Linked DNA regions of Homo sapiens. The protein of the gene in region 7 purifies or fractionates together with the protein of the main gene of each other region. This does not show direct contact. Each region holds a gene or a part of one and is shown on either strand. Other genes may lie near its edges.

What was found.
Region 1: the proteins of NTRK3 (region 7) and TBC1D24 purify together in Homo sapiens (affinity purification with mass spectrometry; 2 studies listed by BioGRID and IntAct, with this or other methods). This does not show direct contact.
Region 2: the proteins of NTRK3 (region 7) and DNAJA3 purify together in Homo sapiens (affinity purification with mass spectrometry; one large-scale study listed by BioGRID and IntAct). This does not show direct contact.
Region 3: the proteins of NTRK3 (region 7) and ITM2B purify together in Homo sapiens (affinity purification with mass spectrometry; one large-scale study listed by BioGRID and IntAct). This does not show direct contact.
Region 4: the proteins of NTRK3 (region 7) and ATP2A2 purify together in Homo sapiens (affinity purification with mass spectrometry; one large-scale study listed by BioGRID and IntAct). This does not show direct contact.
Region 5: the proteins of NTRK3 (region 7) and INPP5D purify together in Homo sapiens (affinity purification with mass spectrometry; one large-scale study listed by BioGRID and IntAct). This does not show direct contact.
Region 6: the proteins of NTRK3 (region 7) and PTCD2 purify together in Homo sapiens (affinity purification with mass spectrometry; 2 studies listed by BioGRID and IntAct, with this or other methods). This does not show direct contact.

The regions. Positions count from the first base shown.
Region 1 is NC_000016.10:2,473,946-2,477,926, reverse strand, and holds the start of TBC1D24 (TBC1 domain family member 24), read right to left. Parts: upstream 2,801-3,981; 5' UTR 2,757-2,800; intron 1-2,756. Other genes in the region: NTN3 (netrin-3 precursor), read right to left, coding at 3,822-3,981. UniProt on the Homo sapiens protein: May act as a GTPase-activating protein for Rab family protein(s). Involved in neuronal projections development, probably through a negative modulation of ARF6 function. Involved in the regulation of synaptic vesicle trafficking.
Region 2 is NC_000016.10:4,439,368-4,442,867, reverse strand, and holds part of DNAJA3 (dnaJ homolog subfamily A member 3, mitochondrial), read right to left. Parts: intron 1,494-3,500; coding exon 1,293-1,493; intron 601-1,292; coding exon 448-600; intron 1-447. UniProt on the Homo sapiens protein: Modulates apoptotic signal transduction or effector structures within the mitochondrial matrix. Affect cytochrome C release from the mitochondria and caspase 3 activation, but not caspase 8 activation.
Region 3 is NC_000013.11:48,260,706-48,264,205, forward strand, and holds part of ITM2B (integral membrane protein 2B), read left to right. Parts: intron 1-433; coding exon 434-519; 3' UTR 520-3,500. UniProt on the Homo sapiens protein: Plays a regulatory role in the processing of the amyloid-beta A4 precursor protein (APP) and acts as an inhibitor of the amyloid-beta peptide aggregation and fibrils deposition. Plays a role in the induction of neurite outgrowth.
Region 4 is NC_000012.12:110,287,747-110,291,246, reverse strand, and holds part of ATP2A2 (sarcoplasmic/endoplasmic reticulum calcium ATPase 2), read right to left. Parts: intron 1-3,500.
Region 5 is NC_000002.12:233,205,873-233,208,403, reverse strand, and holds the end of INPP5D (phosphatidylinositol 3,4,5-trisphosphate 5-phosphatase 1), read right to left. Parts: intron 1,699-2,531; coding exon 1,696-1,698; coding exon of another isoform or gene 1,647-1,695; 3' UTR 501-1,646; downstream 1-500. UniProt on the Homo sapiens protein: Phosphatidylinositol (PtdIns) phosphatase that specifically hydrolyzes the 5-phosphate of phosphatidylinositol-3,4,5-trisphosphate (PtdIns(3,4,5)P3) to produce PtdIns(3,4)P2, thereby negatively regulating the PI3K (phosphoinositide 3-kinase) pathways.
Region 6 is NC_000005.10:72,326,873-72,330,372, reverse strand, and holds part of PTCD2 (pentatricopeptide repeat-containing protein 2, mitochondrial), read right to left. Parts: intron 1-3,500. UniProt on the Homo sapiens protein: Involved in mitochondrial RNA maturation and mitochondrial respiratory chain function.
Region 7 is NC_000015.10:87,861,740-87,865,239, forward strand, and holds part of NTRK3 (NT-3 growth factor receptor isoform a precursor), read right to left. Parts: 3' UTR 1-3,500. UniProt on the Homo sapiens protein: Receptor tyrosine kinase involved in nervous system and probably heart development.

The DNA.
Region 1 (3,981 bases), on a different chromosome or scaffold from region 7:
TTCTCCCAAGAGCTGGTGGGCAGGAACCACGCCTGTCACTTTATATCCACTGTCCCTTCGGGGGAAGGCACTTTCCCTCACTTGTTCTTGCCGGTCCTGATCATCCTTCAAAATGAAGCTCAAGTCCATCTCAGAGCCCCACCCCCACCACAATCCAGCTGGATGCCACGCCTTTGCGCCCACAGAAGGCTCTGTCCACCTCTGTGGGAGCTTCTACCATGTGTTTATTCTCCTGTCTCCTCACTGCACTATAAGCTCAAGGGCAGAGACCAAGTCTTAACACCAAATCCACAGAACACACGGCATGGTGCCTCCTATGAAGTGTGAATTCAATAAATGCATTTTTATTGTTTTGTTTTTCAGAGACAGGGTCTCACTCTGTTGCCCTGGCTTGAGTGCAGTGGCACAATCACAGCTCACTGCAGTCTTGAGCTCCCAGGCTCAAGTGATCCTTCTGCCTCAGCTTCCCAAGTAGCTGGGACCACAGGCACATGCCACCATACTTGGCTAATTTTTTATAGAGACGAGACCTCCCTATGTTGCCCAAGGTGGTCTTGAACTCCTGGGCTCATGCGATCCTTCCACCTCAGCCTCCCAAAGTGTTGGGATTGCAGGCGTGAGCCACCGCACCTCGCTTAACAAACACATGTTGAAAGGATACAGAAAATCATTGAATAATGAATTCAAGTTGGTCCTCAGTAAAAAGCCTGAGGTTTTGTTTCTTTGATTTTATCTCCAATTGAAAGGCAATGTTTGAAACAGCCACTGAAATTGCTGCTTTGAGTTGAAAAGGACTTCTTTCTTCCATTTACAGAGTTGTCATAACAGAAAAGGTATGCTCAGACAGGTAAAACATTGAACAGGGTAAATGTTAAGTGCTTTTTTTGTAACCTGCTTCATTGTCCTTATGTACTTTAAACCAGAAACCATCTAAAGGCAAACATTTAATATGTTTTCTGAGCTTGGCTCAATCTGTAGATAATTAAGAGCAACACTGCATGCCCAAGGTCACTCGAGCCTGCTGGACACTCCTGGCAGGTGTGGTCAGCGAGAGCTAGTAAGGCTACCCTACAGGTGACTTCACAGACCCTGGGTGGCCAAATTTATTGTTGTTATGAAAACCTTGCCTAGATTACTTCTGCATCTCGGAAGGTCACCCTCAACCCAGTGGAAAGCCACTGCAATAGTTGACATCTATCACTCCGACAAAAGGACCTTGATCCACTTCAACCATCATGTAGAGAAAACCTCTGGTCCGGCCCTGGCCAGGCTGTGGGGAAGCAAAGATGAACAGCGTGGCTCCCGCCCTCTTCACAGGGAAAGACAGGCTTCTAAGTAGAGCAAGCACTCCCCAATAAGTCCTCCATGTAAAGCCTCTATCTGAGTGTTCAGATTAGATGAGGATCAACCCTCAGAATAAAAGGCGGTGCACGCAGGGGTCACGCCACAGGCTAGGAACAGTAACTGTAAAATCTTCGTAAGATTTTCTGATCTTCTCTAATCTGGATTGGTTTTTTTTCCCAGTGTGTGTTCCTTAAAATGAAAAGAACCTGACTGCTTGTCTTCGCCGCAACTGAGCAAACATTTACAGGTGCCTACTGTGTGCTGAAGACAGAGCCCTGGCCCTCGGGCGGAGGAAACGCCACGTGTGCCATCTACAGGTGCCTACTGTGTGCTGAGGACAGACTGTGAAGACGGAGCCCTGGACCTCGGGTGGAGGAAACGGCCCACGTGCCAAATAATGGGACGGTTCCTTCTGCACACTGCCTGGAAGTCACCTGGTGACTCCAGAGCAAACACAGCAAAACAGGGAAAAATCACCCGCTAGTGCTTCTATCGGCACTGGAAGGGCAGGCTGACGCCCCCTTTCTGGAATAAGCTGCTGGGTAAAGACAGTGACATCGGCTTCACAACCACAGCCACCAACCTAACAGCCCACCTGCACCTCCACACCACCCAGGTGGCTTTTAGACAACCTTTGACCTTTAATATCACCCCCGCAAGCAGTAACCCGGGGGCCACAGCGCGTTTCCCTGCGGGGCACGGCCATCAAAGAAGGCCTGTGGCCAGGCCGCGGGGACTCCCGCCTGGAGGGGGCGGGAACAGGTGCAGCCCAGCCCAGGTGGGGCCGGCTCTCCCCTCCGCTGTGCTGGCTCAGGGCTGGGAGTCCCTGGCTTCCACCTCCCAGGGCCCGAAGGACAGCGGCCGCCTGGCACGGCGCACCCAGAGGGGCCCCCCACTGGACAGGGCCGGGGGCTGGCGGACCCCCAAGCGGGTGGTCGGTGGGGGCGTGTGTCATCCCTGGGCGGGGCGGGGCGGGGCCCGGGGCCGCTGCAGGTCCACAGGGCAGGGCGTATCAGAATCTGTTGCAATCTCACCGAGCCCCCAAGAGGATTTCCGACCCTGCGGAGACGGAAAGCGCCCCAAGGAAACAGTGACACAGTCACTCTTCCAGACGACACCATGCCCTGGGCCGGGCCGCGGGCCAGCGACCGGGCGGGGATCGGGCCTCGCGCCCAGGGGGTCCCGCTCCTGCGCCCCCTCCCGTAGGCCAAGCCGCAGCTGCAGCGCCGGGCGGTGCCGGGCTCTGGAGCCCCCAACCCGCGCGTGGCCGGGGATCCCCGCCTCGAATGGGGCCCGCAGCCCGGCCCCCACGCTCCCGCCCCCAGCACGCGCCGACCGCGGTGACAGCGGGGACCCGGCCCCGCCACCCGCCACCCCGCCGCGCGCCCCCCGCACGCCCCGAGCGCACCCACCTCCGCGCGCCGCTTTCTCCTCAGCCTGCCGCGCCGGCCTTTCTGCGCACGCGCGTGCTCGGCCCCGCCCCCGCCGAGCTGTCGCCCTGTGCCCACCCCGGAGAGCCCGCGGGGCTCCGGCCTGCCCGGCTCTGGGCATGCGCGCTGACGGTCGGCGGCCGCAGCGGCGGAAGCTGGGGCCGGCCGGGAACCGGTCCCGTGCGGAGAGGAGGCAACGGCAGTGCGGTCCCGGGGGGACAAGCCAAGGGGGGCGGGGGGTGGCACGGCCCTGCCGAGGGCATCGGGGGCCCGGACAGCCGCCTGTCGGAGTCGCGGTCCGGCCGGGTCACGCGTGGATCCGGAACCGCGTGGGCACGACGTCCCTTCCCGAGTCGGGGGAGAAGGGCTGGAAGGAGGTTCTGGGACGGGCCCTGAGCTGAGGAGCTGTGGCGCCGAGGGTCAGAGACGCGGCAGAGAGAGGGACGGCCGGACGGAGCCGGCAGACGGGGACACAGGCGGCCAAGAAAGTTACGGGACCCGGCAGCAGACGCCGCGGGGCGCCCGGACGCGGACGCCCAGCCCGCAGGGGCCAAGGCCGCCGCCCTCGTGGGGCTGCAGGAGGCAGGGGACGCCCTGTCCCCCCATGGGGGTCCAAGGCGCCTGCGGTGGCCACAGTCTTTGGGGAGGTCAGTGCGCTCCCTGGCGGGTCGCCGCACAGGTGGGGGTGCATCACAGCGGCCCCGGGGATGATCTGAGATCCCCGAGAGGGCCCGGCATCACGAAGGATTCACAGCCTTCCGGGTATCCCAGTGCCCCTGGGACAGGGCCGACAGCCAGAGGGCGGGAGACCATGGGGTCCTCCGGGTGTGCCATATCATCTGCCTCTGTGCGGGGCGGGCTGTCGCTGCGCCGGTCACATCCCCCCAGGGCCAGACGGGAGGTACCGAGGGAGCTGCCGGCGGGGACGGGGCGGCGGCCCAGGTGGCGACACGCGCGACGCGAGCAAGGACTCCTTGGCAGGCGAAGGCACAGGGTGAACGTGCGCCTAGATGTGGGAGCAGCGGCCGCCCTGCCCAGCCGGCGGGCTCAGGCGGCGCTGCAGCGCCCCCGCCGTTCGCGTCGCTGCAGCCTCCGCAGGCGCCGCGTCCACGCGTCCCTCCAGGGTAGCACGAGGCTTCCGCGGGCGGCGATGAGCCCGGGCCCCCGGCCCCCCGCGCCCCCAGCCGCGGCTCCAGGCCCGCCCCCC
Region 2 (3,500 bases), on a different chromosome or scaffold from region 7:
AGGGCCTCAATCTGTTCATCTGATTTTCTAGAACACACAAACTTCTGCACTCCAGATCATCAACTTGACCACACGACACTGAAAAATATGATACCGCCTGTCTACAGAAGTACCTGAAGACTCCTGGGAGCTGAACAGTACATTTAAAAAAGATTATTTCCCCTTGAATTACCAAAGCAATTGTTAGAAAAATAAAGAAGAAAGTGACAACTGGATGCAATCCCCCGCCCCGCCCCCGGAGCTGCTGTGCTCTGGTTGCTGAGCCTGTGGTATCAGGGAAAGAGGAGCACAGGCTCGTCTCCTCAGGGTCACGGGGGAAAGACAGCCAGGCTGAGTTCACCAACTCCCCCAATTCCCAGCATACGTTCTCTGGGAGCAGTGCCACAACCAGCTCTTCTCAGTCAGTGGTGCAAGCCGTGGGAGGTGGAGTCTCGGGCAGAGCCTTACCATGCCGGAGCCGCCACAGTAGTGGCAATGCTGCACCTTGGTGCCGGGCTCGTTCCCCTTGCCGTTGCAGCGCTCACACGTGTCCATGATGTTCACGGTGAACTCCTTGTTGACCCCCTTTGCAGCTTGATTGAATGTCAACTCCATGAAGTACTAAAGAAACCAAGGGACAGCCTGTCAACTTTTGTTTGCAACGACCAAAACTGACGCTCGGCTCTAAAGGGAAAGGAGGGTACTGGCCCACATTTTCAGTCACTCTTTCACCACTGTACTTACTTGCACTCTGCCAAGTAAGCATAGGTAGGACTCACTGAACGAATTCTGCCCTACTCTTTGGGATTTTTAAGAGATAATGTATGACTTAAATGAAAACGTACTTTCAACAGACTGAAAATGTTCACAGATAAATACTCGTACATGGCACTTAAAAACAGCCTGAATGATCCACAATCATAATTTAGATCATAAATATATCCCCTCTCTCTTCCACTCTGACAGTGTCTTATAAGGACATAAATGAGAGAGGATCAGCAGTGCCTTCCCACCGGACAGAACTCTCCTGGAATACTGTAGCAGATGAGAGACAACACTCACACCCTCATGGGCTCTGAAAGCCTTAGGTGCTACCTCATTATGCAACTGTTAAGAATACCATCAGAATGGACATACTCATTACTACCTATGCGATTTTTCAAATACTGAAATTATTTTCTACTAAAATGGCTGCCTCCAGATCACTCCATTTAAGCTGCCTTGCCTTTCTGAGAAACAGAAACTGATAAAAAAATTTGTTTGACCCATACTTAGTCTAAAATTTGAATAATTCTTCCAAGTGAGGAACTTACTTCCTGAGGCTGATCAAACACGGTCTGGAAATCTCCAAATGAAGAGGATGAGAACTCGCCAAAGATCTTCCTGAACAGCTCCTCGGGGTCCACAGTGGGGCCTCCCTTCCAGTAGCTATGCTGGGAGCCGCTGGCCCCAGGATCGAAGCCTGCAGAGCCGTAGGCATCGTACTGCTTCCTCTTCACCTCATCACTCAAAACCTACAGTGAAAGGCAGAGCCACTGGGCATCCCAGGTCTACCAAGGCCCAGGAATACAGACAAGAGTTCACAGCAAATAAGGCAGCCATAACATTTATTAAGTGGCCCTGTGTGCAAACACATCCTATGAGGTTGGGGTGGGCCTGTGACTAGCACCTAGAAGAGGGATGAGATGACCAAACTGAATGCTAAGTGTAGGGCGTGAAGTGCTTCCAAAAGTCTCACGAACTCTCCCGCCGTCGCGCATGCTGGGAAAATGTTTGTGTTGATCCTCGCTTGACCTCACAGGCACCCTGGATTCTTCACAGATTCACACTTCACCTCTCTCCTCAGGGGACATTACCTCGTAGAGAATTTATGCTTCCTACCCTTACCTTCATCGAAAGGTTTTCTGCAAGCCAGAACAACCGGAGTAACAGAAGTAACAGCAACGACAATAGCAGTGGTGCAATCCTAGCTCACTGCAGCCTCAACCTCCCAGGTTGAAGCAATCCTCCTGCCTCAGCCTCCACAGTAGCTGGGTCTACAGGTGCACACCACCAGTCCTGGCAAATTGTTTTAAGTTTTTGTAGAGACAGGGTCTTGCTATGTTGCCCAGGCTGCTTTCAAACTCCTGGCCTCAAGCGATCCTCCCACTTCGACCTCCCAAAATACTGGGATTACAGGCATGAGCCACTGGGCCTGGCCCACAAAACTGTTAATAAGGACTAACTACCTCAAAAAGGGGGATTAGGGAGGGACAAGGAAAAATGTAGTATTCACTTTGTATCTTTTTTTTTTTTTTTGAGACGGGAGTCTTGCTCTGTCGCCAGGCTGGAGTGCAGTGGCGCGATCTCGGCTCACTGCAACCTCTGCCTCTCGGGTTCAAGTGATTCTCCTGCCTCAGCCTCCCGAGTAGTTGGGACTAAAGACATGCACCACCACGCCCAGCTAATTTTTTTGTATTTTTAGTAGAGACAGGGTTTCACCACGTTTGCCAGGATGGTCTCGATCTCTTGACCTCGTGATCCGTCTGCCTCAGCCTCCCAAAGTGCTGGGATTACAAGCGTGAGCCACCGTGCCTGGCCCTCACTTTGTATCTTTTTTTTATGTGTTTGTCTTACTTTTTTTTTCTTTAATTAAAAAGACACTGCCCTAGGCTGAGTATGGTGGCTCACACCTGTAATCCCAGGACTTTGGGAGGCCAAGGCAGGTGGACTGCTTGAGTTCATGAGTTCAAGACCAGCCTGGGCAACATGGTGAAACCCCATCACAAGAAAAATACAAAAAAATTAACCAAGAATGGTGGTGCACGCCTATAGTTCCAGCTACTTGGGAGGCTGAGGTGGGAGGATTGCTTGAGCACGGAGGTTGAGGTTGAGGCTGCAGTGAACCGTGATTGCACCATTGCACTCCAGCCTGGGCAACAAAGTGAGACACTATCTCAAAAAAATAGGCACTATCCTTAAGGCCAAACAGAAAAGAGTACGCTTCCTCCAAAGGAAAAGACACTTCCACCTAGAATGGAGGGGGACTAAGAAAGCAGGTGGAGGACAGCTTGGTGCCTAGGGTAACTTTTAGGGCACCCAGTTAAGATGCAAAGGAGGAAGGCTGGCAGAGGAGGAGTCAGGTGGGAGTTCATGACTTCCTGGTGGGTTTTATCTCCTGGTTCCAGCCCTTCCCAAGGAATTGCTGCTCTTAGGTTCTGAGGCTCGGTCCGTTTAATAACATCCCCCTTGAAGACAGAAGTCAGCAACACGGTGGATTAGGACTCTCCAAAACTCATGCCCCTGGCAGAAACATCAGATCAACTAACCATGTGGAAAAACACATTCACAAGAATAACACCCCCCCGCCCCATTAAAAATTGAATCTTCTGGGTGCAGTGGGGAACCTGTAGTCCCAGCTACTCAGGAAGTTGAGGTTGAGGCAGGAAAACTGCTTGAGCCCAAGAGTTTGAGACTGCAGTGAGCTGTGATCTCGCCACTACACTCCAGCCTAGGTAACAGAGTGAGACCTCAACTCTTTT
Region 3 (3,500 bases), on a different chromosome or scaffold from region 7:
TTTTTTATTGCTGTGTTGATTTCTTACATTTTAAAATTCTCTTGGTTCATAATTTTTTTTAAAGTCAGCCTTACACGTGCCATGAAATTTACCCTTTTTAGTGTGCAACTCTGAGTTTCCACAAAGATACACAAGGTCTTGCAAGCACCACCATAGTCAAGATACAGAACATTTTCAATACCTTCAAGTTCATGAATTTGTAAGCAGTCTGGATAGCATTATTAATGTTGCTGTGATCTGTCAAGATATTAATACTTGGTTCAGAAAAGGGAGAAAAATTACTTTTCTTCAGTGTAAACATTCAAACTGTAGAAGTTTTTGTGGAATATAGAGTGAAATACTTCTATATGTCTAAATAATAACTATAAAAATGATGTGAATATTTATTATTAAAGAATCAAAATTTTAAAAAACTTTTTTCCCTCTCCAACAGGTATTCAGAAACGTGAAGCCAGCAATTGTTTCGCAATTCGGCATTTTGAAAACAAATTTGCCGTGGAAACTTTAATTTGTTCTTGAACAGTCAAGAAAAACATTATTGAGGAAAATTAATATCACAGCATAACCCCACCCTTTACATTTTGTGCAGTGATTATTTTTTAAAGTCTTCTTTCATGTAAGTAGCAAACAGGGCTTTACTATCTTTTCATCTCATTAATTCAATTAAAACCATTACCTTAAAATTTTTTTCTTTCGAAGTGTGGTGTCTTTTATATTTGAATTAGTAACTGTATGAAGTCATAGATAATAGTACATGTCACCTTAGGTAGTAGGAAGAATTACAATTTCTTTAAATCATTTATCTGGATTTTTATGTTTTATTAGCATTTTCAAGAAGACGGATTATCTAGAGAATAATCATATATATGCATACGTAAAAATGGACCACAGTGACTTATTTGTAGTTGTTAGTTGCCCTGCTACCTAGTTTGTTAGTGCATTTGAGCACACATTTTAATTTTCCTCTAATTAAAATGTGCAGTATTTTCAGTGTCAAATATATTTAACTATTTAGAGAATGATTTCCACCTTTATGTTTTAATATCCTAGGCATCTGCTGTAATAATATTTTAGAAAATGTTTGGAATTTAAGAAATAACTTGTGTTACTAATTTGTATAACCCATATCTGTGCAATGGAATATAAATATCACAAAGTTGTTTAACTAGACTGCGTGTTGTTTTTCCCGTATAATAAAACCAAAGAATAGTTTGGTTCTTCAAATCTTAAGAGAATCCACATAAAAGAAGAAACTATTTTTTAAAAATTCACTTCTATATATACAATGAGTAAAATCACAGATTTTTTCTTTAAATAAAAATAAGTCATTTTAATAACTAAACCAGATTCTTTGTGGATACTATTAAAGTAACATTTAAGCCTCAACCTTGAATGATGTTGTTTAATATAAAATGCTTTTATTTTTGATGGAAAGGCAATCAAAGCCTAAAGTTTCCAAGGAACGTAAAATAACTGTGCTTCTCTGAGAATGCCCGCCTCACAAGTGGAACATTTTGAGTTAATAATGATGATTTTTATGTTTCTAAGGTTGCTTCCTCTCTGAAATAATTCAGAATCCACCCCCATTTAATAAAATACCTATGATTCATTTCACCTCAAGTTCCTAAGACAAAAAATTTCAATTCTGACTTTAGGAGGTCAGAGTTTTTAAAGCTTCCAACTCTTAAAGGATTTAGTCTAGAAACCAATTCTAATTCAAAAGGATATTATTTACTCATGGCTTTTCATTTCATTTCAGTAATATTGTCAGAACTTTAAGTCAGTGAGTTGGGTATTCAGGAATTAACAATTTTAGAAGACAATATGTTTCAATAAAATGAGAATTGGTTTTTCCTACTTTCCAGGCTCTAAAATTACATGAATTTTCAGGGAGCTGTGAACATTTAGGAGCACATTATTCATTCAGCATCTTTTATATGCCCAACATATGATATTGTGTTGAAGATATATCTGCAAAGAAGAAAAAAAGCCACTGCCGTCGTGGAGACTCACAATCTAGGAAAAGAGAGGGACAGCAAACAACTCATTACAATACATTGGGATCAGTAGTGTGAGGGAGAAAAACAGGTCTAGGTTCTTTGGAAAACATTTAGGAGAGTCAATGAGACTTTCAGAATGTGAAGTGCATGGGATTAGGTCATGGAAGAAGACCATGTATGTCATCTTGAGGACTTCATTCTGTAGACCATGGGCCACTATTGAAGTTTTGCATTTTGGAAGGAGCTTATTAGTTTGTTTTCCTGTTGATTATAGTAGTAATGCAGTATCAGGGTAGCTGAACTGCAATAATAATCCCAACATCTCACTGGCTTCATGCAGTAGGAATATGCTTTCATCACAGTCCAGTATGGCAGGCAACCTCCAGACTCCCAGGGACCCAAACTTACACTTTACTAAATGTAATTCTTTCATTTGAATTTTTAAAGGTTTTTGTATAATCATCTTAGTAAAACATTTGATAATTCTTCACAACATTTGCAATCATTGATTTGGCCAGATTGGTCTAACATGGTACCCATGATTTTACTTCATTTCCAGTACTATTCTGATAATTTCCTTTAGAGTCAATTGAGTAGAGAGTACCCCTCTCACCTAAGCTTAGTCATGTCCCAGGAATTTTGGAACTCCAACTGAGATTTCAGGCTCATTATTCATTCTAGGGCTGAATGAATAATGTGCCCTTTGAACCCTTGTGCCATGCTGGAAACTGTGGTCTTGGTGTGGCATGGAAAAACCAGAGGGTGAGGGATGTGGATGAGAAGATGACAGAGAATCAGACATGCAGAGAGGACTGCCAGGTCTCCCAGTGGGTTCCAGGGAGACTCAGCTATCCTTCCCTCTTCTTGAGTTCTGTCTTAGTCCATTCGGGCTACTATAACAAAATACCATAGACTGAGTGGCTTTAAACAACAGAAGCTTGTTTCTCACAGTTCCAGAAGCTGGAAAGTTCAAGATCAAGTCACCTGCAGATTCAGTGTCTGATGAGGTCCTCCTTCCTCACAGAAAGCTCTCTTCTCTCTGTGACCTTATATCACAGATGACTCTGGGTTCCTCTTACAAGGACACTAGTTCCATTCATGGGGGTTCCACTCTCATGACCTAACACCTCTCAAAGGCCCCATTTCCTAATACTGTCACCTTGGGGGTAAGGATTTCAACATGAATTCTGGGGGGACACAAACATTCAAACCATAGCAAGTTCCATAATGCACCCCATCATATGTGTGTGTGTGTGTATTTATTTATTTATCTAAGATAGCTCTAGTTTGCTGCTTTGCAACACATTCTGCCCCTATTGCATTGGTTTAAAAAAAAAGTACAGAAGTCAAGATGAGACTATATAAATCTTGACAAGTTGTTGGCCGTGATTGCTCTTTTGTGATGCAGGAGTGAGAATCTGGAGAATCTGGCTTAAGAGGTGGCTGAGAATTAAAATAATAGGCATGAAAATGCTTCATACAGCTCTGTACAGTTGTTGA
Region 4 (3,500 bases), on a different chromosome or scaffold from region 7:
GGGCAACAGAGCAAGACTCGGTCTCAAAACAAAAAAAAAAGCCGGGTGCGATGGCTCACGCCTGTAATTCCAGCACTTTGGGAGGCCAAGGCGGGGGGATCACCTGAGGTCTGGAGCTCGAGACCAGCCTGACCAACACGAAGAAACCCTATCTCTACTAAAATTACAAAATTAGCAGTGTGTGGTGGTGCATGCCTGTAATCCCAGCTACTCAGGAGGCTGAGGCAGGAGAATCGCTTGAACCCGGGAGGCAGAGGTTGCGGTGAGCCAAGATCGCACCATTGCACTCCAGCCTGGGCAACAAAAGCAAAACTCAAAAAACAAACAAAAAACTATACTTCATGGCTGGGTGTGGTGGTTCAAGTCTGTAATCCCAGCACTTTGGGAGGCCGAGACAGGTAGATCGCCTGAGGTCAGGAATTCGAGACCACCCTGGCCAACAAGGTGAAACCACCTCTACTAGAAACACAAAAAATTAGCCAGGTGTGGTGGCGCACACCTGCAGTCCTAGCTAGTTGGGAAGCTGAGGCAGGAGAATCGCTTGAACCTGGGAGGCAAAGGTTGCAGTGAGCTGAGATCGCACCACTGCACACCAGCCTGGGCGTTAGAGCAAGACTCAGTCTCAAAAAAACAACTATACTTCTTAAAAATACCTTATCTTTTGATGTAATAATTCCATTTTAGAATCCAAATAAAATCTGGGGAGAGGGAATAAATTCCATTCATTTTATATGTATCTATTTAGAAAAAATAAAACTTCAATTCTTGATTAAAGTAAAAGGTGATCATCTAACAGTCATGTTCATTTAGTTATTATTCATATCAAGTAATATCCATGTGACATAAATCCACAGTATAAACAACTTGATCACTGACTTAAATTTTAGAGCATATATAAACTGTTTAATTCTAGGCCGGGAACAGTGGCTCATGCCTATAATCCCGGCACTTTGGGAGGCCAAGGCAGGAGGATCATTTCATGCCAGGAGCTTGAGACCAGCCTGGGCAACATAGCGAGACCCTCATCTCTATAAAAGAAACAAAAAACCAGTTAATTCCCCGTTTCTTTTCAGTGGTACTACTGAAGGCTGTTTCAGAACCGCAAAGCTGTTGGGAGATCCGAAGTGTATTTTGTAGGTTATCCTCCATATGACATTTATACAGCAACACAGCACTTCAGAGATAACCTAAGTCCAAAAATGTAACTGGTCACAGAACACTGCCCCAAGAAAATGGGGCAGAGGTTTAAACTTTTAGCTCATACAACTATAAACTTGTTAAGATTTAAAAACTACAAAGTAAGAGTCACACTGCACTTCCCAATCCAACAACTATAAACGTGGTAAAAAGAGAGAACTCACCACAATGAATACTAAGAATAATGAATATGGTAAAGAGTGGTCTATGTGGTTAAAAATTTAAAAACCTCTTTTTGTGGAAACTTACCAATCCAGAAACAGTGTTAACCACATCTAATGATTTAATCTTGGAGGTCGAATTTTTTTTAATTAAAAAATTGCTTAAAATGTTTGCATATTTCATAATAAAATCTTCTTTAAAAGATCTACTTAGTAAATCATGAAAACACTCCTCCAAATGATTTATGGCAATAATGAATCCAAATGACTCATTAGAAGACGGCATGAATAAGAAATATCTGTTTGAGCAGGACAAAAAGAAAAATAAAAACAGGAGGCACCAGGACCACCAAGTCCTGACAGATGCCAATCACCACCAACGTCCAGTGAGCTAGGGCAAACAGACAACCAGAATGAGTATAATAAATGTTACTGTATGCTTTCAACAGGGCATTCTAGTGTTAAGGCCAGGAATAATGCCAGAATGAAAACTTCTCTAGGAAGTTATAAATTTTGATAGATGCAGGATCACAGCTGCTCTGATACTAGACTTTCAAACATTTGCCAAGGAGAGCATATCAGAAACAAGAAACTTTAATTAGCTCTTGGGGGAGAAAAATCGCTCAACTTGAAGAGTAACTATGACCTTTCCAAAAGGTCAGTGAGGCATTAGCAACTGTAAGATAAGCTTCACACCTTGTTAAAGTGGGTATGAATTTCCCTCTTGGCAGTAAAGCCTGGGGAACAAACTTAAAGCAACATCCCCTGATAGCTAGAGCAAAGGGAAAGACAATGGCAAGCAGTGATGGGACCATCAGAGCAAACCTCTACTTTAAAATACTACAGCCCAAAATGAAGAACAACCATATCAGATCATGTCGGGCAGTCCTTCACAGTTCTGATCTATTGGTAAGAAAACCTCTTGCCTTGTGTAAGGAGAAAGAGGATTGACAACAGAAACCATGAGACTGGGAGGGAGATGGGGTAAGAGAAAGGGGAGGAAAACTGGATGAGTGACATTACTGAAACGCAAGATCCCTTACTGCAGTATTATAGTACTATAGTAATGTGAGTTCATAATTATGGTTTGCCAGAAGTTATACAAAGTATACTTATACAAGGAACTGGGAAAATGTTTCTAAAAATTTTGACAACAGGTTGAATATAAAGAATTATCTGTTTCAAGCCAGGAGCAGTGGCTCACACCTGTAATCACAGCACTTTGGGAGGCTGAGGTGGGCAGATCACCTGAGGTCAGGAGTTCAAGACCAGCCTGACCAACATGGCGAAAACCCATCTCTACTAAAATACAAAAAATTAGCCGAGTGTGGTGGTGGACGCCTGTAATCCCAGCTACTGGGGAAGCTGAGACAGGAGAATCGCTTGACCCCGGGAGGCAGAGGTTACAGCGAGCCGAGATCGCGCCATTGCACTCCAGCCTGGCTGACAAGAGCAAAACTCCATCTCAAGGAAAAAAAAAAAAAGAATTATCTGTTTCAGCTGGGTGAGGTGGCTCATGCCTATAATCCTAATGCTTTGGGAAAATCTCTTAAGGCCAGGAATTGGAGACTAGCTTGAGTAACATAGTGAGACCCTATGTGTATAAAAAAAAATTTTTTTTTAATTAGTTGGGCATGGCAGGGCATGCCTGTAGTCCTGACTACTCGGGAAGATTGCTTGAAACCAGGAGTTTGAGGTTATAATGAGCTATGATCGTGCCACTACTACATTCCAGCCTAGGTGACAGAGTGAGACTCTGCCTCAAAAAAAAAAAAAAAAAAAAAAAAGGGCAAAGCATGATGGCTCACACCTATAGTCCCAGCTACTTGGGAGGCTCAAGAATCAGGCTTCAGCCCAGGTGTCTGAGGCTGCAGTGAGCTATAATCGCACCACTGCATTTACCCGCTGGGCGACAGGAGACCCTATCTCCAGGAAAATTGAAAATTTTAAACAGTGTGTAAAAGGATTATCTGGGCTGGGTGAGGTGGCTCATGTCTGTAATCCCAGCACTTTGGGAAGCTGAGGCAGGCGGATCACCTAAGGCCAGGAGCTGGAGACCAGCCTGGTCAACATGGAGAAACCCCGTCTCTACTAAAAATACAAAAAATTACCCGGGCGTGGTGGTGCATGCCTGTAATCCCA
Region 5 (2,531 bases), on a different chromosome or scaffold from region 7:
GCCTGGAGCCCAGGCCTGGTGTCTGTGAGCAGAAGCAGAGGCCAGGCAGCCCAAGGTGGGGCAGAGGCGCCGTGGAAGTGGCCCGCACTGTGCCTCTGGGCGGGGGTCTACTCCCTGACCTGGGAACCCATGACCTGGGGAGTGTTGACGTGTTTTTTTTGTCACTGCAGCTTAAGTGGTGAAAACTTATAAAAGCTGGGAGGAACTTGTGGGCTGCAGGACAGCAGGTTTGGAGGGGATGCTCGTGGCCTCTGGGTGGCCGCAGGGTGCTTGGAGTGCCAGGAAGATGTGTGGGTGGAAGGAAGGAAGGGGTGCGGTTTACTCCTGTTCCTAGTCCAGGACCAGCTTCAAACTGGCTCTATGGTGTCCCATCTGGTCAGGGCAACACCATCCATCACCACCATGAACCCTTAACTGCCTCAGTTGTGCCCTGTGCAGGCCCTGCCATCTAGAAGGATATCTATGGCTCCGAATGTCAGGAAAAACGCCACACACACAGCTGAGTGAGAAAGGCACAATTTATTGGTTACGCAGACTTCCATCATGGGAATGTGGGGTGCATTCCCTTCTGCATTCACACACACCACTGGATTTAGCTCCCTACATTAATTCTGCTATGTTGAAAAAGCAACATAAGGAAAGACATCACCCATCTATTCTCCTAATAACCAAGGAAGCAGAGCTGAAAGCCACAGAGATAGGAAGAAAAGGCTGCACTATTTCAAGAGCCTGGAACCAAGAGGCCCACCCTCCCTGGCAGCCAGGCTGGAGAGCACGGCTTTCGGGAGCAACAGCAAAGACTCTTCTACCAGCACGATGGAATACATGTTGGGGGGCTTGGCTTAACTGTGGCTGGTGATGGCTGCCCACCTCGAGGAGGGCACAGGGAACCTGGCACAGGCCTTGGCATCTCTAGCCCAAGCTGAGGCCAGATCTCTCCACTGGAGAATAGGAGCTGATTTCCTGCTCCTTCCAACCAAAGAACTGAGAAGCCAGGTAGATCCCTGCTCTCAGCCTAGCCATGCCGGAACCCGCGGGACTTTAGCTAAAGCAGCTTGTGTCACTGAAGCTGGACAGAACAGGCTTCTTGTACCCTAAACAAGCTACCCAGACTCTTCAGCTCCTTAAGGCCGAGCCCTTGTCTCACTCCAGGAGGGCACTGGGCTTCTTAATGCTTTCACCCCTCCGAACACACACCGTTTTAAACTGGTGGGTTTGGGCACGTGGTTTTAGGTGGCTAGAGCCTCAGCTCTCGAGGTCATCCTGATATGACGAATGTTCGTAAAGCACTTAGCACAGCACTTGGCACATCATGAGTGTTCGATCCATGTGGCCATTATTATTATTAATATTATTATTATCTATATCTCCACCCTCAAATCGGCGCTGCAGTTCCTTTCTTCAGAATGGCGCCCTCAACGAGGCACTGGGGTCCCAAGTACCAAGAGCGAGCTGGGGACCCAGACTGTTTGTTGCCCGTCTGGTGTGCGTTTTTCTTCCAGCCTCAGCACTTGGTGCTAAGTCTCACAGGCAGTGAACTCTGTGGGCCACACAGAAGCTAGGCCCTTTCCTGAAAACACAAAGCCTTGCATAGGAAGCTGGGCAGGAGGAGCCAGCAGGAGGTCCCGGGAGAGGGTCCAGTGGCTTCACGCCGTTCCTCTGGGCTCCCGACTCAGTGGCAGCTCACTGAGGGCTTCACTGTGGGACAAGAACAGAAGGGCTGTCAGGGCTCATTCTCACCAGGCCATGTTGAACTAAGTGGCCCAGGTCCCTGCATGCTGTGGGCTAGGCCAGGCTTCCTTTAACGTGTAGCTGAGAAGAGCCAGCACTCACTGCTCTAAGTACTTTACCTGCTTATTTAAAAAAATTGTTTTTTAGAAATGGGGTCTTACTCTGTTGCCTAGTCTGGAGTGCAGTGGTGCAATCATAGCTCACTGCAGCCTTGAATTCTTGGGTTCCAGCTAGCCTCATGCCTCAGCCTCCCCAGTAGCTGGGACTACAGGTGCATGGCACCACACCCAGGTACGTACCATATATATATATAAAATATATACACATATGTAATATGTATAGTATATATATATGAAATGATATGTAATGGATATCAATGTAAATACATAAATATAAATATATAATTTCTATATAGATGATAATACATGGTAATAATACATAATAGCCTACAATGCAATTCTCCTTCTAAGTCTATGAGGTAGGTACTATTAACAGCCCCTTTTTACAGATGGGTAAACTGAGGCTCAAGGCACAGAGCCAGGAGGTGGGAGGGCTGGGATTCAAATCCAACATAGCCTGACTGTTCTCTTTTTTGAGATGGAGTCTCACTCTGTCGCCCAGGCTGGAGTGCAGTGTTGCGATCTCGGTTCACTGCAACCTCCGCCTCCTGGGTTCAAGCAATTCTCCTGTCTCAGCCTCCCGAGTAGTTGGGATTACAGGTGCACACCACAATGCCCAGCTAATTTTTGTATTTTTAATAGAGACAGGGTTTCACCATATTGGTTAGGCTGGTCTTGAAC
Region 6 (3,500 bases), on a different chromosome or scaffold from region 7:
GCTAAAAATCATCGAGGAGTCAGAGTAGTATTACGCTAGTCTATTCTAAATGCATATACTACAATGATACCATAATAGAATGATGAGGTGTACTTTGATACATTTCATTATCCACTTATAGAAGTTACAAATAGGCCGGGCACAGTGGCTCACACCTGTAATCCCAGCACTTTGGGAGGCCGAACCAGGCGGATTATGAGGTCAGGAGATCGAGACCATCTTGGCTAACATGGTGAAACCCCGTCTCTACTGAAAATACAAAAAAAAAAAAAATTAGCCGGGCGTGGTGGCGGGCGCCTGTAATCCCTGCTACTTGGGAGGCTGAGGCAGGAGAATGGCATGAACCCAGGAGGCGGAGCTTGCAGTGAGCCGAGATAGCACCCCTGCACTCCAGCCTGGGCGACAGAGCGAGACTCCATCTCAAAAAAAAAAAAAAGAAGTTATAAATAATATTCATTGCTTCATTACAACACTTATAAATTAAGTTTTTGGAAGGCAATATAGGATAGTGGTTAAGGGTTTTCAGGCTCTGAATCCAAACTGATCATTCAAATCCTAGCTCTTCTACTTGTGTGATGATGAGCAAATTAATTAACTACTCTGTGCTTCCGTCTCCTCATCTGTAAAATGGAAGGAAGAAGAGAACCCAACTCAGTTTTTTTGTGAAGATTAAATGAGATGATGTGCCTGGCACACAAGTCTTCAACATATAAATCTTTATAAAACGTAAGGCATGCTAAGGAAAACATCTTCAAAAATCAACATATTTCAGTAAATATTCTCATGAGAAACTTGTGCCAGATTAAAAGCAAAAGAAAGCAAAAAAAAAGTTTCTGATTTGACATTAACATGCTAAATGACATTCACATTAATAAAAGTGCTAGAAAGTCACTGAGATAATGAATTGCCTTCTGGACAAGAAATGTTCAAGAGGGTCTAAAATCCCTCAATAAACCAAACAGCATTTGGTCAACATAACGAGGGTATTAAGATGCTCCCCATTTTTGGCTCAATAAAAAGCTTATGTTTCAGCTCGTGACTCTCCTTTCCCAGCCACGGGCTGCCTGACTCAGGGAGAAAGAGAACATGTTGGTGGAGCCTTGGATCTACCCATCTTTCCACTTGTCCGGCTGTCTACAAGTAGAGAGGGAAAAGGTCAGCAACTGGGTAGAGATTTATTAGCATCAGTAAAGGAACTAAGTCATACTTTGAATATTTATGATAAAAATAAGAGTAGAAAGAGTGTTCAGGATATTTATCTCATTTTACTACTCTTATAAACATTGAATAGCTTTGTGTAGTAAAATGAGAGGAAAACATGCCAAAGGGAAATGATTTAACTTTGTGAAACTGAAATACGGAATTAAGTTTGTAGATACAGTGTGACTTTAAATTAGCATAACACTTTTGGAAAATAATCTGACAGTTATATATTGATAAACTTTAAAAAGTTCATACCCCCTGATCCCCAAAAGGAAACAAAGAGTAAGTTTTATGCAGCGAGTTTCTCATCATGACATTATTTATACTGGTGAAATATTAGAAAAAACTTCAATGTCCAACAATATGGGCATAGTTGATGAAAATACCTAACATATAATAAATACTGTATTGCCATTAAACTATGATTCCTAAGGATATGATTAACATGAAAATATTTATATTTAGAAAATAATTACACAGCAATAACTATAACAATGTAAAGCAAAATCTACCAAAACAATGAAATCTTTACATCTGTGAAAAAAAAAAATGCAAAAATATTAACAGTGGTTTCTTAGATGGGAGCAACAGGCCCCAAAGATGGCTGCCATCAATTTCTTCCCTCTCTGTATGTGCATATGGCTCCATCCATCCAGAGGTAGAATCCTTTTCCCCTCCCCTTGACTTTGGTCTGGCCAGGCAACTTGCCTTAACCAAGAGAAGCCATGCCAATTCTGGGCAGCTCTATCATGCCTGGCAGCTCCCATCTGGGCTGTGGGCCAGTGCAGCTCAAACCAACAAATGAATAATGAGGCACTCCAGAAAGACAGGGAGAGGCCACATGGAGGAGCAATGAGGCATCACAAACTCAAGAGAGGACTTCTTGGACCATGTAGTACAGCCCAGCTACCAGCTGACTGCAGATGAGTGAGTGGCTTCATCTGACACCAACCAAGAACTGCTCAGTGGAGATGGGCCTGAATTCCTGACTCCAGGATTATGAGAAATAATAAATAGTTACTGTGTTAAGCCATTAAGTTCTGGTGTGGGTTGTTATACAGCAACAGACAACTGAAACAGCAGAATTTGTGACATATTACTTCTCTCTACTTTTTGGTGTTTTTCAATTTTTCAATGAATTTTTTAATTTTTACTTAAAAAAAGACATTTTTTTCATGTTATAAAATTAATGTCCACTGTAGACAAGTTTGAGAAATCAGAAAAATATACATTTAGATAAACAAAAAATACATAATCCATAATTCCTAGAGAACCAGTTAACTTTTGGTAGAGAATCTTCCAGTATTCTTTATATGATTATCTTGTATTTCTCTCTATAAATGTACATATAAATACAGGTTCATATATAGAAACAGATCTTTTAAAAATGGAAAGGAGGGCTGGGCGTGGTGGCTCATGCCTGTAATCCCAGCCTTTGGGAGGCTGAGGTGGATGGATCACTTGAGTCTAGGAGTTCGAGACCAGCCTGGCCAATATGGCAAAACCCACTCTCTACTAAAAATACAAAAATTAGCCGGGTGTGGTGGCAGGCACCTGTAACCCCAGCTACTTGGGAGACTGAGGCAAGAGAATTGCTTGAACCTGGAGGTGGAGGTTGCATTGAGCTGAAAGATCGTGCCACTGTACTCTGGCCTGGGCAACAGATCAAGACTTCATCTCAAAAAAAAAAAAAAAAATAGTTTAAAAAGAAAAGGAAAAGAGCAATGAATTTAATTTCAGAAATGAAGTCTGTTGATTTGATGTCATACTGCTCCCTGGTAAGCGAAGCCTTTGCTGGCTTTCCCAGTGGCAGGCTATGCTTACATGCGAGTTCTTTCTGACATGGGAAACTTTAATAACGGATCAGAAAGGTATAGCAGGACTGGAGGAGGGAAAATAGGAGTCCACTGAAAGGATTTAGGTGAGAGACATTAAAGCGTGAACTAAGACACTGCTAACGGAGATAGAGAGAGGAAGGCTAGAGCTGAGGGAGATACCAAGGAAGTAGAACCAAGAGGATTTCTTACCCTATCAGGAAAGAGAGGCAAATGACATGAGAGTAAAGAGGCTCCAAAATATCTGTCCTGAGTGACTAGCCAGTGAGAAGGAAAACAGAAGAAGAGGAGTGAATTTGTACATAATGAATTTGAAGACCTAGGGGATATGTCAGTGATAGGCTGGTAACTTCTTTAGACATAAAATATCTGCTTTTCTATCCTTAGCACCCAGCATATAGTAGGAACCCAGTAAGTGTGTGCTCAACAATAAGTGAATGTAGGTGTCTGGAGTTCAAGGTA
Region 7 (3,500 bases):
CTAGACGCGCCCTTGAAAATTTTAGGAATTTTTTCAGAAAAAGTACTGAGAATCTTTATAAAATTGTATTCGCTGGCCAGTTCCCTCCTGGGGCTTCTATTGGCATCATCTCTCCTTCTAGAGATGCCTGCTCTGCATCTCTAGTCTCAGGCCACATTTCCCCCAGCCAGCAGATCGTTCCTCCATTAGCAGTCACTTTGCAGCTCCTTCCCCTCTGTTCTAAGGGAAAATAACTTGTATTATTAAGCTTTCCTATCCCCATAGGTCCTTTCTGTACATATTATTTCTAAACTTTTTAAATATGGGAAGGTTCCTGGATTAAAATATAAGACAAAACTCCTCTATTCTAAAGAACTCTAACAGAGGTGTTGGATGCTGCTCACCTCCAGTCTTCATACAAATAATCTAGAGAATCTTGTGCCATGGCCTTTTTTGCAGGGCAAGTGTGAGCACTGGAATGAGATTCACTCAAGAGGACAAGGAATGGAAGGAATGGATGGCTACATCTTAGACCCACTCCCAAGTTAGAAATCATCGTTCCACTGAACTTGCTCCTCTGAGATCTGGCTCTGTCCTACTTTTTCCACCTCATTTATTCCTAAAAGAAACCCCTTATTTTCTTACACCACTAAATGTTATGGATGTTATGATAAGCAACATGGAAAGGGAATGGAAAGAAAGGGATAAGATATAGGGGAAATTCAGAGCCTTGGATGGTACAGAGGCATTCAAAATGGAGGTTTTCTAACATCTGTCAGATAGAAGGCAATATTTATGATGAAACCTGCAGTGACTGACTTGCCTTCCCAACACAGGATTCATCCTGACATGAGTGGAGAAGATGCTGACAATTAGTTAAGAGTAGACAATGATGACTCTAAGATGATATCTGTGTGTCATTGTGCTATATAAAAACTGGCCAATCACAAAGCAATGTGACAACATGTGCTTCTGCTACCCTTGTTTTCTCAGTACACCCTTCAGTCTGGCCTGAAGAATGCCACAAGGAGTCATTTGCATTCTTATTGTGATTGTTTAAGGCAAAAACAGCTGTTAAAGAGCACTCAGGGTTGAAGGGTGGATGCTGAGAATCAGAGAAGTGCCCCCAATGAGTCTCCAAAATGAATAACAGCAGCATCACTGGGACCTTTTCTGTCCCCAAACTTCATAGCTTCTGCTCAACTGCTGTGAAACATTGCCTCCAGATGCACACTGAGTCAAACATAGACTTGTACATTGTGAGAAATGTGCAGAAATGTTAAAAGGAAAATGATTGTGTATAAGCAGTCCTTCATTTAGGGGTTTACAAGTCAGTGGTATGTTATAAAGACTTGTGTAGGGGGAGCCTACTCTAAAGCATGCCCTTCAAATGAAGTCTAGTGTGTTTCTTTCTACTTCTCTGAGCCAGGAGAGCTGGGAGTGTTACTCCAAACCCATTTGTTAGGAGGTCAAGAATGTGACAGAGACAGCTAAGCTAGGCTTGGTAATAAATGAAAGATGTAAGAACCTTAAGAATAAAGTCTTCCAAGTTGAGGCTCCGGTAGATAGGAAATAAAGGAAAACAAAACAACTGCCCTTCCTAGTCTGGGAGGTCAATCAGGATAGCGGGCCCCTTCAATTCAGGGGGTTGTTTGCTGTCCCTGGTGCTGAAAACATACACCCAGGCTTCGCTGCAGAATTTACACTCTGGGATGCGAGAAGCAAGAAATCCCGCTTATCAAACTAAATACTCTTTCAGCAAAGGCTGATTTCAGGTGACAGGCCTCAAAACATGTTCCAAAAGTCTTTTTTTTTTTTTGTATGTGTGTCATTTCAAACAAAAATAGCCCTGAAGCAACCCTAGTTTTCCTGTGGAACAGTTAATGCGTGCCAAAGTACTGATGTGGTAGCTCTCCCAAAATTCCCTCATGTTATTCATGAACCTTAAAACCTTGGAAAAGAAAGATTGTAAACAGATGCACCATTGGGGTCTACAGTCCCCACCTACTGATTTCTTTTTCTGATACCAGTTGCAGACAATAATTTATATGGCTTGCTATGACTAAATGTTTCTGAAGGAAATATTTGGGTAAAACTTTGCCATGAACTGCAACATGGGCCTCTGAATTCCTCTCCTTTCCTAATTTTATTGTCACATTCTGAGAAAATAAACAGGGCATCTATTATGCTAAAGAGAAAGTATAAACTCATAAACAACTACATTCTATCTGCCTTTAACCCCCCACCAGGCAAAATACACACACACACACACACATACACACACACACACACACACACACACAGAATCTCAAAAAGTAAAGTCTACCTGAGAAATAACATGAATCTTCCCCCAACAGTACACAAATCTTTGCCAGAGAGAAGAACACTGCTATTTTCTTTCACATTCAGAGTGAGAATTTTCTTGCCCCAACTTGCTTTCCTTTCATTTTAATTTGACAGTTCCTCAAGCTAATCCACCATGGCCCCCACATAAACAAGAAGAGTTCTTGATGCTGTGAAGTGAGAGAAAAATAACATGAGTCATTTTCTGTTGCCTCCACATCTGATAGAATTGGAGGAGCCTTTACTTTGGGATATGAATACAATCAATCTTTTCTAGCCTGGAAAAGGAAGTATCCTAAGAAAGGCTAAACTCTCAGAGAAGGGGCAGATGGTGAGAAAGCATTGAAATAAGTTCTTGTTGTGCCTGTTAACATATCAGGTCAAACTTTCTCTACCTGGTGAGTTATTCCCCAAATGATATCTCTGAAATCCTTAAATAATCAGCCTTGTCTTTAGGAAGTTATATAGTGAAATGAGCTTGTTCAAGGAAGGCTTTAACAGTACTGTGAAGGAGGTCATCCCCTCCAGATTATCAGAATAAATTATGAAACTTCACCCTGAACCAGTGACTAAGCCAAATAGATAAAGCATCCCCCTGTCTCCTTGTATTTTTTAGAGCATTCTCCATGGCTAGATACTCAAAGTGAAAAATGCTAATGGCAAAACTTCTAAAAAACAGACACCAGCAAAAATTTAAGGAAGATATGCCTCAAAACACGTCTCAAAAGCGGCTCTCAGTCTCTCAGCTCAGCACCCAGCAAGACTGCATGCAACTGCCCAGAGAGTGGGCTCTATTATTTGTCTGGCCCTGTACAGTTCACCTTCTCCAATTTCACATCATAATTTAAAATCTCAGTGGTAACCCAATTTGGACTCTCATTTCGAAAGCTGGGATGCTTTTTGTCTACTGAACAGTAGTCCGAAACAGAGGTGTTGCTTTTCTACACAAGAAAAACAAAAATTGAGCCCAATCTTTTGTCATCAAGATTGCCTCTGTATGAGGCAAAAGTTAAAGAGAAAAGAGAAGCTGAGAGAGCCTGAACTTGAGCAAAATATTTGTGAATTTTCTAGGATTTGGGGTATGCAGCTTTATTCTGATTTCTTTCTGGAGTGATCAAAATACTTTTAGAAAATCATGTATAGCATTTTGTCAGATACACTGCAAGTGATTGTTGCTT